Linked DNA regions of Homo sapiens: region 2 is linked to region 1. The links come from fine-mapping of genetic effects on gene expression. A gene starts in region 1. The other region holds a variant in brackets. All regions are shown on one strand. Distances are from middle to middle. Region 1 holds the start of MATCAP1 (microtubule associated tyrosine carboxypeptidase 1). Region 2 overlaps PLEKHG4 (pleckstrin homology and RhoGEF domain containing G4).

Region 1 (5,364 bases):
GCCCACACTAGGACACTAGGGACTTTGGACTCACATCGCCCTGGGGTTCCAATTCTAGTTCTGCTAATTACTAGTTGTGTGACCTTGGATGAGTTACCTAATCTCTGTGAATCTCACTTTTCTCATTAGTATTATGGGGGTACTAATGGAATGTTCTGAGAATCACATGAGATAACATGTAAAGTGGCCACCATAGTGCCTGGCACATGGTGTCAATTGTTCATTCGTCCAGCAAATATTTCAAGGCCCTACTCTGTGCCAGTAATGTCTGGGGTTACAGCTGTGTGTATACACGCACACACACACACACTCCCTTCCTCTTGGGTGGTATGTTCTTTTTGGTGGGGGCAAGGAAAACAAGTGATGATTTTTTACTCCCTCCTCACTGGGATACTTCCCTTCCTTTACGAATGAGGAAACAGAAACCGAAAGAATGTTTTCCTCAAGGACGCACCGCGAATTTGAGGCAGGTCTCGCTGGGCTGTGTCCTTTGCAGCTCGCCAAGCGCCCGTCTCCCAGCCCTGGTCCATGCCTGGGACCAGAAGTGCAGAGAGCCGCTGTTCTCGCTCCCTCCCGTCAAACACTTGCCCCACAAGGTGGCGCCGGAGGGTCTGGACCACCGAGGGCCATGCGGGCCTTGGCCTTGGTCCTGAAGCCGTAGTTTTGCTTGGTCCAGCTCCTCAGTGTCTGTCCTGCAGCTGGACGGGGCGCCTTCAGGGGCCTTGGCTCCAGTGGAAGCTGCGCTGGACGAGTTGCAGAGGAGGATCTACCGCTTGGTGTTGGAGGCGCTGCAGGCGGAGCTCCAGGTGAGGCCTCCTTCAGGTCAGGATGGGAGCAGGTGGAGAGGTGGCGGTACAGCTACGTATGGGGGTCTCCGCGGCAATGCCAGATCTGGATCATTTCCCCAGCCCCTGTTCGCGGATCTGCCCTCGCGCCAATGGCTGTCGAGCCCTGAGCTCCTGCAAAGTGTGTGTGAACGGACGGGGCGCTTCTGCCGGGACTTCTGGCGCGTGCGGAACCCCACGGTTCAGGTGGGTTGGGGGAAAAGATTGGGGAAGGGGCGGCGCGGGTGAGAGGCGACCTGCACCCGCCTGATTGCCTCCCCGCAGCTGCTGCTGGCTGAGGCCGAGCGTGCCGTGGTGCTCCAGTACCTGAGCGCGCTGATGCAAGGCCGCCTGGTGTGCCGCGGAGCCGACGAGAGGACCCAGGCGGCCGAGCGCCTGCGGCACGATGCTGCCCAGCTTCAGCAGCTTTTCCTCAGTTTGGTGAGAGCTTCTTGGGCGGGCAGACGGGCGAGAGTCTCAGTGGCTGGGTGGGAGAGAGGGCTGGCGCGAGACCCTACCCCGACGTGCTCAGGGCCTGGAGGAGAACGCGCACTGCGCGCCGGTGCTGCTCGCCCTGAGGGAGCTGCTAAACCTCCGCGACCCCGCGCTGCTGGGCCTGGAGGTGGCTGGCCTGCGGCAACAATTTCCCGACGTGAGGTGCGGACTGGGGGCCAGAAGGGAAGAGAAGCCGGAGGGCGGGGAGGACGGGGCTGACGCGCCTCCTTGGTGCCCCTGCAGCGAGGACCACGTCTCCGCCCTCTTGGGCCTGCGCGGGGACTTGTCCCGGGAGCAGCACCTGGCCGCGCTCAGCTCCCTGCAGGCTGCGCTGCCGCCGTCGCCCCGCGCGAGCCGCCGCGTCCTCTTCAGCCTAGTGCCCGCGCCCGCGCTCGCGCCGGCCTCCTGCCTGCCCTCGGGGTCCTGCGCCCGAGCCCTGCTGCTCGCAGAATAAACCACGGCTGCCGGACGCCTGAGTCTGTGTGTGTTGGGGAAGGTGGGATGGAATAAAAGTGCCCACGAGGGTTGAGGGAATTCTTGCAGAGTGACACGCTTAAAGTATCCTGGCTCCCGTCCTGGTACACGGGCTGCGCCCCGCCTATGCAGGCATCTGCCCTCTGTGCAGACTGCGTTCCCGAGGCCGCGGGCTACGCCCCCACGTCTCCGCGCCCAGGCCGTGAGCAAGAGTCTCCGCCGCCCTGGCCGCCTGGAGCCCCTGAAGCCCAGCAACTCGCTGTGGCCTTGGGAAGGGGGCGGGCCCAGGACCACGAACACCGCCCCCTCAACCCTGCCTGGCTTCGCTCCCAGTGGCCTCGGGGGCGCGCCGCCGCGGAGACTGACGCGAAGCCCCACGCTTTCGTAAGAGCGTGCGCGCGCCCGAGGACGTACGTCATCGGCGACGGCTCCCGCCGGCTGGGCGTCCGGTGGCCGGTGTAGCAGAGCGGGAGCGGCGGGCGGCGAGCAGAGGAGCTAACAGGTGGGGGCACGGCACGCGGACGGACCCCCCCAAAGGCCGGGAGGAGGCGCGCGACGCGACCTTTCCTGATCTCCCGGAGAAGCCTCCACTCCATTGTCTCCTGGCCCCACCCTCCATTGGGCACGCCCTTCACCTTATCCCCCACCACTTATTGGCTGCAGGTCACGCCCCTCCTCTATTTCTGGTTCCCCATTGGCTCTTCACCTTGTCCTCTCCGGGGCTTCTCTCCGCACAGGCCACACCCTCTCATTTGTCACTAGACCCCGCCTTAATAGTGGGGGGCTCCTCCCCCATCCATCCTTCATTCATTATGCACCCAGTGCTGGGTGCTTGGTACACGGGGGTGAATCAGACCCCATTCCTGCCTTCGGGGAGTTCAGGGGATTGTGGGAGGACACGGACCTAGACTCCAACAGTGACAGCTCTGAGTAAAGAAGTCGCCGAAGCAGTGGGACACTAGACGCGGGGAAGGCTTCCTGGAGGAAGTGAGGCCTAAACTGAGCCTTGAAGAATGGTTAAGAGTTTGCTCCAGGAATATATTGCAAAGGCATTCTTGGCGGAAGGACCCGAGACGTGAAAAAAACAGGCGTATTCTGGTAATTTCGAGGAGGTATGTCGAATGAAAGAAGGGGAGATGGAGGGGACTGGGCCAAGCAGAAACCTGTAAAGGGGTGAGGAGTCCAAAAAACTGTACAGTTAGTTAAAGGGAGTGAAGCCTGGGACCTGAAGTCTTTTCAAGCAGCTGGTCATTAGGCAGGGTAGAGAGGAGTGGAGAGGGGGAAGATGAAGTCTAGATAGGGAAGCAAAGTGCAGGGAAGGAATAATTCTAGTTCTGAAAGAAGAGCTCTTGGATTCATTTATTTATTGAGCAATTGCTGCGGGCCAGGCACTGTTCTGGGTTCTGGGGACACAGCTGTGAATGTTGGAAAAGATAAAACAGATAACTATCAAATATACCTATCATACAAATATAAACTGTACTGAAGTACACTCCAGATGGTGATGACTGCTACAAAGAACAATAATTTGGGGAAGGGGAGATAGTGGAGAGGGGAGAGGAGGTTTACTATTTTATTGAGGGTGTGTTAGGCTTTTCTAATAACATGGTATTGATGCAGAGATTTGAGGAAAGTGAGAGAGTGACCCATGCCATTATACAGGGGGAGGAACATCCCAGACAGAGGACATATTCTGTTTGATATGCCTATTAAACATTCAAGTGATGACACTGCAGTGAAGATGGACATGATGGCATGTGCCTGTGGTTCCAGCTAGTTGGAAGGCTGAGGTGGGAAGATTGCTTGAGGCCAGGAATTCAAGACCAGCCTGGGCAAATAGACAGTATCTCAAATTGCACTGAAATTGGCAACACTGGTCTAAAGTTTATGGAAGAAGTCTGAGCTAATGTATGTAAAACCACAAGAGTGGATGAGAACATCTAGGGAGTGAACGTAAATGGAGAAGTTTCCATAGGCAAGTCCTGGAGCATTACAGTATTAAGAGGTCAGGGAGACAGGGATGACCAGCAAGGTAGGAGGAGAACTAAGTTCGACTGTGTTTGGAAAACCAAGTGGACAGCATGTTTCCAGGAGGCAGTGACTTTTTTTTTTTTTTTTTTTTTTGAGATGGAGTTTCGCTGTTGTTGCCCAGGCTGGAGTGCCATGGCACAATCTTGGCTCACCGCAAACTCCGCCTCCCGGGTTCAAGCGATTCTCCTACCTCAGCCTCCCGAGTAGCTGGGGTTACAGGCATGTGCCACCACGCCCAGCTAATTTTGTATTTTAGTAGAGACGGGGTTTCTCCATGTTGGTCAGGCTGGTCTCGAACTCCCGACCTCAGGTGATCCGCCCGCCTCGGCCTCCCAAAGTGCTGGGATTACAGGCGTGAGCCACCCTGCCTGGCCTCCAGGAGGTAGTGATTAACTGTATCGGGTGCTGATCAATATGAAGGTCATTGCTGGTCATTGGTGACCTTGATCAGATCAATTTGGATGGAGTGCTGGGAACAAAAGGCTAATTGGAGTGAATTTAAGAGAGAACAGGAAAAAAGGAACTGGAGACTGGGTATAGATGACTCGAGGTATGTGCTGCAATAGGAGCAAGTGGAGGGAGATGCAGCGGGGCTGTAGCTGGAGGAGTGTGGGTTCTAGTGAGGGTTTTGTTTTGTTTTTTAAGATGGAGAAGTAACAGCATGTGTTTATCCTGATGGAAAGAGTCCAGTAGAGAGGAAGAGATTGATGATGTAGGAGAGAGGAGAAATGCTGGAAGTGAGTCACTGAGCAGGCAAGGGAGCTCAGCAGCTGGAGCCTCTCCAGGTAGTCTCTGGGGAGGGTTGGGATTGGACTGAGTCCTGGAACAGAGTCGGGGTGAGCGCCCTGACACTGGCTTTGGATGACCACTGGAAAGATCCCTCAGATAGGGGACAAGCCAGAGATTGGCTTGGATTTGCTGAAGCTTCCTTCTGCTTCCCAAAAGCAGATTCTAATTTGGATTTCAACAGATGGCTCAGAGGAGAGAGGGCATTCTGGGGGGTACCGGCGTAAGCATGGGGCCCTCAAACATTGAAACTGACTGAGGCCAAATAGGCAGGAGGATATGGGTAAAGCCAGGTGGATGGGCAGGGGTGGCACTGAGAAGATGCCATAGGCTGAAGGCAGTCCCTGAGGTCTTCTCACCTACCTAATCTGCCCAGGCAGCTGAAGCTGCACTGTACCACCTCCCAGATTAAGTGAGTGAGCACAGAGATTAGAATCACGAGTAAGGGGCTCAGTCCTTGCCTTCAGGAGCTCAGGCTGAGAGGATTCCAGTAACCACCACCTAGGTGGGTGTTTAAAACTCTTGCTTTCGGCTGGGTGCGATGGCTCATGCATTTAATTCCAGCACTTTGGGAGGCTGAGGCGGGAGGATCACTTCAGGCCAGGAGTTGGAGGCTGCAATGAGCTATGATCATTGCACTGCACTCCACCTTGGGCAACAGAGTGAGACCCTGTCTCAAAAAACAAAAACGAAAACAAAAGTGCTTTCTTCCGGCCCAGCATATTTGGGTGAGTCTGCTGGAGGCAATGGACGC
Region 2 (5,364 bases), 110 kb before region 1:
ATGGCAGAGCAAGTTAGTGACAAAGGAGGACTAGACCCCCCCGCTCACCAATGCCATCTCTGTGCCAGGCAGCAGACACAGAAATGACTGGCACATTGGCATGGCTGGAGGGGCCAGGAGAACACACACGGCGAAGGGATGAGTGCTGTGGGAAGGAGGTGCCTATGAAGCAGGAGCACAAAAGAGGCTGAGGGCTGGGGAGTCAGCAGGGGAAGGAAGGAGAAGTCCAGGATGTTTGGAAGCGCAGGGCATGGGTCTAGCTGGAGGCCAGGCTTCACATGCAGACGTGATAAAAGATGAGGCTGAAGACAGAAGTCATAAGGACAGGCCTCGTGGGCCAGCTTCAGGACGTGGTACTCCATTCTGACCAGGATGGGAGTGAGCAGCGTCTGAAGGATTTTAGACAAGAGCACGGGGTCAGGTGTGCCCATCAGAAAGTTTGCTCCAGGAGCAGAGGAAATGCAGCAGGAGCTAGGTATTCGAAGCCACTTGGAGTTCTTTCTAGGCTAGGGGAAGCAGGCTAGGCAGGTAGTGGAGGGAAGGAGGGATGGGCCAAGGAGAAGCCAGGTTTCTAGCCTGTGGGACTGCAAGGGGGTGGATAGGCCCTTACTGAGGTGTGGGTAAGAGAAAGAGCAGAGCTTGGGGAAGGGCACATACTGAGTGTGAAATGCCGAGGGACATCCAGGTGGAGAAGCCCAGGAGACAGCAGGGGCTACAGGGACTGAACTGGAGAGAGAGCTTGTGTAGCCAGCTAAGGGAAGGTGGCCAGGGAACTGTGCTGAAAATCGCTGTGCCAGGATGCTGCCTCTGCTCCCTCAAAGCCCTGCCTGCAGTATTGTCACCTTCCCTATTAGTGGCTCCAGCCCTGCTTGGAGGGGCCTTCTTGGACTCTTGCCTGTGAGCCCTAAGTTGGTCTGTCAAGGTTGGGATGACAAATGTCCACTCTTTGGACATGCATCAAAGGCTGGCCCCAAAAGTTCTCAACTTAAAATTTTATAAAGATTTCCAGCCCTCAGCCCCATTTGATACGTCTTAGTTCAACAGAGGAATCTGGAGTTTCTTCGAGTTCCAAAATGTTCAGGATTTGGCTTGCAGTGATGCCAGGGCAATGAAGAGAGGAGTGGCCAGGACAGGCCCCTGCCAGCCCAGGGTGTCACTTCTGAGAAACTAGAGGTGGCAGCTGTTGCAAGGCTGGGGTGACTTGATTGTACTGGCCTGTCACCAGAGGTCCCCTTCCTGCTTGGGCTCTGAGGTGGCTTAAGGAGAGTCCCTGCTTATGAAGATTTGATGGTAATTGAAGAAAAGAATTTTAAAAGCCTGTGCGTGTGGCTCACGCCTGTAATCCCAGCACTTTGGGAGGCTGAGGCGGGTGGATCACCTAAGGTCAGGAGTTCGAGACCAGCCTGGTGAAACCCCATCTCTACCAAAAATACAAAAATTAGCCGGGCGTGGTGGCAGGTGCCTGTAATCCCAGCTACTCAGGAGGCTGAGGCAGGAGAATCGCTGGAACCTGGGAGGCAGAGGTTGCAGTGAGCCAAGATTGTGCCATTGCACTCCAGCCTGGGCAACAAAAGCAAAACTCTATCTTGAAAAAAAATTTTTTTTTAAAAGGAGAGCCCCCTCCCTATGTTGTTTTCACAGAAAGCCCTGCCCCTGAGCAGCCTCTGCCCGAGGCCAGTGAGGTGGACAGCCTAGGGGTTATCCTCAAAGTGACTCACCCCCCCGTGGTGGGCAGCGATGGCTTCTGCATGTTCTTTGAGGACAGCATCATCTATACCACGGAGATGGACAACCTCAGGCACACAACACCCACAGCCAGTCCCCAGCCCCAAGGTGAGGCTCTGGAGCCAGGCCGAGCCCTGCGCCTCCTCGTGAGGATGCCTGAGCCCCCTCCCAGGGTACTTCAGGCAGAGACAGTGGCCCCTGGGGGCCCTACCCCTCTCCCCCTCCTCACACTGTCTCTAAGGCCCTAGCTATTGACAGATGTGGCCACATCCACTTTCCCTCCTCCACAGAAGTGACTTTCCTGAGTTTCTCTCTGTCCTGGGAAGAGATGTTTTATGCACAGAAATGTCACTGCTTCCTGGCTGACATCATCATGGATTCCATCAGGCAAAAGGACCCCAAAGCCATCACAGCCAAGGTGGTCTCCCTGGCCAATCGGCTGTGGGTATGTGTGACAGGCCTCAGGCCCTGGGGCACCCTGTACCTTCTCCACCTCTTCCCCTGCCCCACAATAAGTGGTGCAAGGCAAGAGGAAGTAAGCCAAGATGGGGTTAAGGAGAAGGCCAGGGCCAGAAGAGTGGTGGGACAGGGAGGCAAGCAGAGCAGTTGCACCTGGACTGAGCCTCGGCCAAGAGGCAGATTTGCAGTGACAGTGCCCGCCCCCTACCCCTGTGGCTCTGTGGGCCCAGAGAAGTCCCCGCTCTGCATCTCACTCTGAGGGGCTAGGAGCTGCCCTAGCACTGCCTGACTGTGGGCTCTCCTGGCAGACCCTGCACATCAGCCCCAAGCAGTTTGTGGTAGATTTGCTGGCCATCACCGGCTTCAAGGATGACCGGCACACCCAGGAGCGCCTGTACAGCTGGGTGGAGGTGAGGGCCACTTGCAATCCCTGGGAATCCACCGACCCTGTGGATGCCTCAGATGGACGTGTGTCTTGCTGCACCAGGGCTGGGCCAGCACTGCCCAGAAGGCTAGACAGGCAGCTTAGGCCACTGCTCCCAGGGAGGGAGAAACTGCATGAAATTAACCAATCCAGAGTAGTCCAAAAGCAGTATTCAGGCCACTGGTTTTTACAGTTTTCCTCCAATGATACCAGCTGTGCCTTCATCACTAACAACCCTGGCCACACTTAGGGACACATATCATATGAGCCCAAGCTTTGACTCATATGGGAGTGAGGCCTTTTCAACCAGTGATACCAGCTTCACCTATCTGGCCACGATGTCACCAATTGTGTACATTCCTTTCATTTCTAAACTACTTTTAAGCATTCTTAGGCCGGGCGCGGTGGCTCACGCCTGTAATCCCAGCACTTTGGGAGGCCGAGGCGGGTGGATCATGAGGTCAGGAGATCGAGACCATCCTGGCTAACACAGTGAAACCCCGTCTCTACTGAAAACACAAAAAAATTAGCCAGGCGTGGTGGTGGGCGCCTGTAGTCCCAGCTACTCAGGAGGCTGAGGCAGGAGAATGGCGTAAACCCGGGAGGCGGAGCTTGTAGTGAGCCGAGATCGTGCCACT[G/A]CACTCCAGCCTGGGTGACAGAGCGAGACTCCGTCTCAAAAAAAAAAAAAAAAAAAAAAAAAAAAGAAAATATTCAGTAAGGGCAAAGGAATGATCAAGGGTTTTTTTCTTTTTCCTTTTCTGATTCCTTAATCTAATTTTAACATTGAGGCCGAAACGATTTAGGCAGTTTCTCATTGATCTGACACTTCTATAATCAAGAGCATTATTATAACACCTTTCACCACAAGCCCTCTAGTACCCAGTTACCATTAGGCATCTGGCTCATATGTGGTTTGTAAAGGTGAAGTCAGCATGTATGGCTAAAAAGCAGAAAACCAGTAGCAGGAAACAGATTTTTGAACCTCCGGTCTTTCTGCTTTGTTCCCTGATAGCCATTTCTAGCCCCACCCTGTGAGATGCCCTGGGGCAGAGCTGGGCCCTAGAGCATCAAAAGTCCCCAACAGCCGGGCTTGCCCTGTCCCTGCCCCAATGGGAGAACCCCACCCACATGGAGCTAGAGTAGACAACTGGCCAGGAAATCAGGGATAAGACTGGCCTTTCCTTCCAGCTTACACTGCCCTTCGCCAGGAAATATGGCCGATGCATGGACCTGCTCATCCAGAGGGGCCTGTCTAGGTCTGTCTCTTACTCCATCCTGGGAAAGTACCTACAAGAGGACTAGGGTGCCCAGAGATGCAGCCCCTCATGCCCCACCCGCCAAGTCTCATTTTAATTGGAGATAGCCCAGAATGCATGTGCCCATCAGAGGGTACATATCAGTCTATTTTTTATTATAAACAAATAAAAGATTAAATCACACATCAAAGACCTAGACTCCTTCTCTGAGACACCAAAGGCCTAACAACCAGTAAGATAATTTTAGACAATTCTATTGAAAGTTATTCAAAAGGCATCAAGTCAAAATAACGAAACTGCCCCAGTAAAAAGGGGCTGGGCCTGGGGGCCAGGAAAGGCAAGCATGAGGGCCCAGTAGAGGTGGACCTGTCCCTATGGTAACTGAGCTCGGCTTTAAGGCCAGGCATTGGGGATCAGCTGCTAGGAGCCCACCTGTGTTCTTCCTGAGGGGTGGGGGCACCCTAGTCACTGCCTAGAGGCACATGGTCCCCCACCAGCCTACAGCATGGAAACACCCAATGTCTGCTCTAGCCTATTCTTAACCCACAACTGGGATGGGAGCTGGGGACAGGAGAAGGGGTCATGGGGCCAGGAGCCTATTCAGGCTCTACAACCAGACTTCCCTAGAGAGGCCCCGTGCCAGTTAGTCCAATGGCCACACACATCAGAAAGGGTAGTCAACAGCGTTGCACATGTAGGTTGGAGGTAGCCCAGGTGTCAGCCACACCCTGGTCACAGCAGATCCAGAGAGGCAATGTTCCTTGGAGCTGCAGGCTGCTGGATCTACTGCTCGTCCAGTCCCGGGCTCAGACCTGCAGGGCCAGGCCAGGCATGAATGCCTGCTTCCCTGACTCTGGACCCAGGAGGTGTCTGGGGAATGGCTCTGGCCCACCCACCCCAAGCTCTACCCAAAGTAAAGGCCTAGCCTGGGCTGGGGAGGGGCTGGTCACAGTCACAGGCTCAGCTTGGGCTGGGGAAGGGCTGGTGGGTATAGGGCAAATGGCACTCACACAGGGTAAGTCCTCCAGGCCCCTACCCAGGGCCTGCCCTGACACACAGCTGCTGTCAGAGCCACTGGAGCCACTGGCTGATGGGCATTGGGACGAGATCTCTGAGTCCTCAGCAGCTAGGGAGGGAGACTGGGTGAACTGTCAGCACGGGAAGCCCCAGACCCCAAGCCATGCCCTCCTGCCTCTGGCTAGGCCCAGACATACTCAAAGAGGGCTGGCCGCCCAGCTCTGCCTCAGCCTCCAGTGCTGCTTCCTCTGGGAAGCTGGGATACAGGGGACAGCGGAGACCCAGAAGAGCTGGGTCTCTGTACAGGTGCAGGTTGAGGGACCCCAGAACAGAGCAAGAGGCAGGGTCTCCAGGAAGGGAGTTCGAGGCCCCCAGGTAGAGGCTGTCATGGTCAAACGGGGCTACGGCAATGGACGCCCGAGAGCGAACTTCTGCATAAGAGAGAGGGTCAGGTTGGGACAGGCCAGAGCCTAGCCTGGCCCC

What was found. PIP is the estimated chance that this variant, and not a neighbour inherited with it, causes the effect. A credible set is the group of variants that fine-mapping cannot tell apart.
Region 2: its variant is the best candidate, but not a certain one, in a credible set for the expression of MATCAP1 in sun-exposed skin (GTEx, PIP 0.75).

Annotation. Positions count from the first base shown.
Region 1 is chr16:67,180,803-67,186,166 of GRCh38, reverse strand. MATCAP1 (microtubule associated tyrosine carboxypeptidase 1) reads left to right here and starts at 2,204. Exons shown (of 7, transcript NM_001040715.2): 1 at 2,204-2,905. It overlaps EXOC3L1 (exocyst complex component 3 like 1), which reads left to right. Exons shown (of 14, transcript NM_178516.4): 10 at 677-806; 11 at 909-1,031; 12 at 1,110-1,265; 13 at 1,357-1,481; 14 at 1,563-1,788. The coding sequence ends at 1,773. RefSeq lists an enhancer at 686-785.
Region 2 is chr16:67,288,115-67,293,478 of GRCh38, reverse strand. PLEKHG4 (pleckstrin homology and RhoGEF domain containing G4) reads right to left here. Exons shown (of 22, transcript NM_001129729.3): 20 at 5,079-5,312; 21 at 4,875-4,990; 22 at 3,999-4,676. The coding sequence ends at 4,671. KCTD19 (potassium channel tetramerization domain containing 19) reads left to right here. Exons shown (of 16, transcript NM_001100915.3): 13 at 1,642-1,833; 14 at 2,016-2,170; 15 at 2,493-2,594; 16 at 3,797-4,047. The coding sequence ends at 3,910. Among named protein-coding and RNA genes, the nearest start is that of PLEKHG4, 11 kb to the right of the region's middle. The variant G/A (reference allele first, on the strand shown) is at 3,247.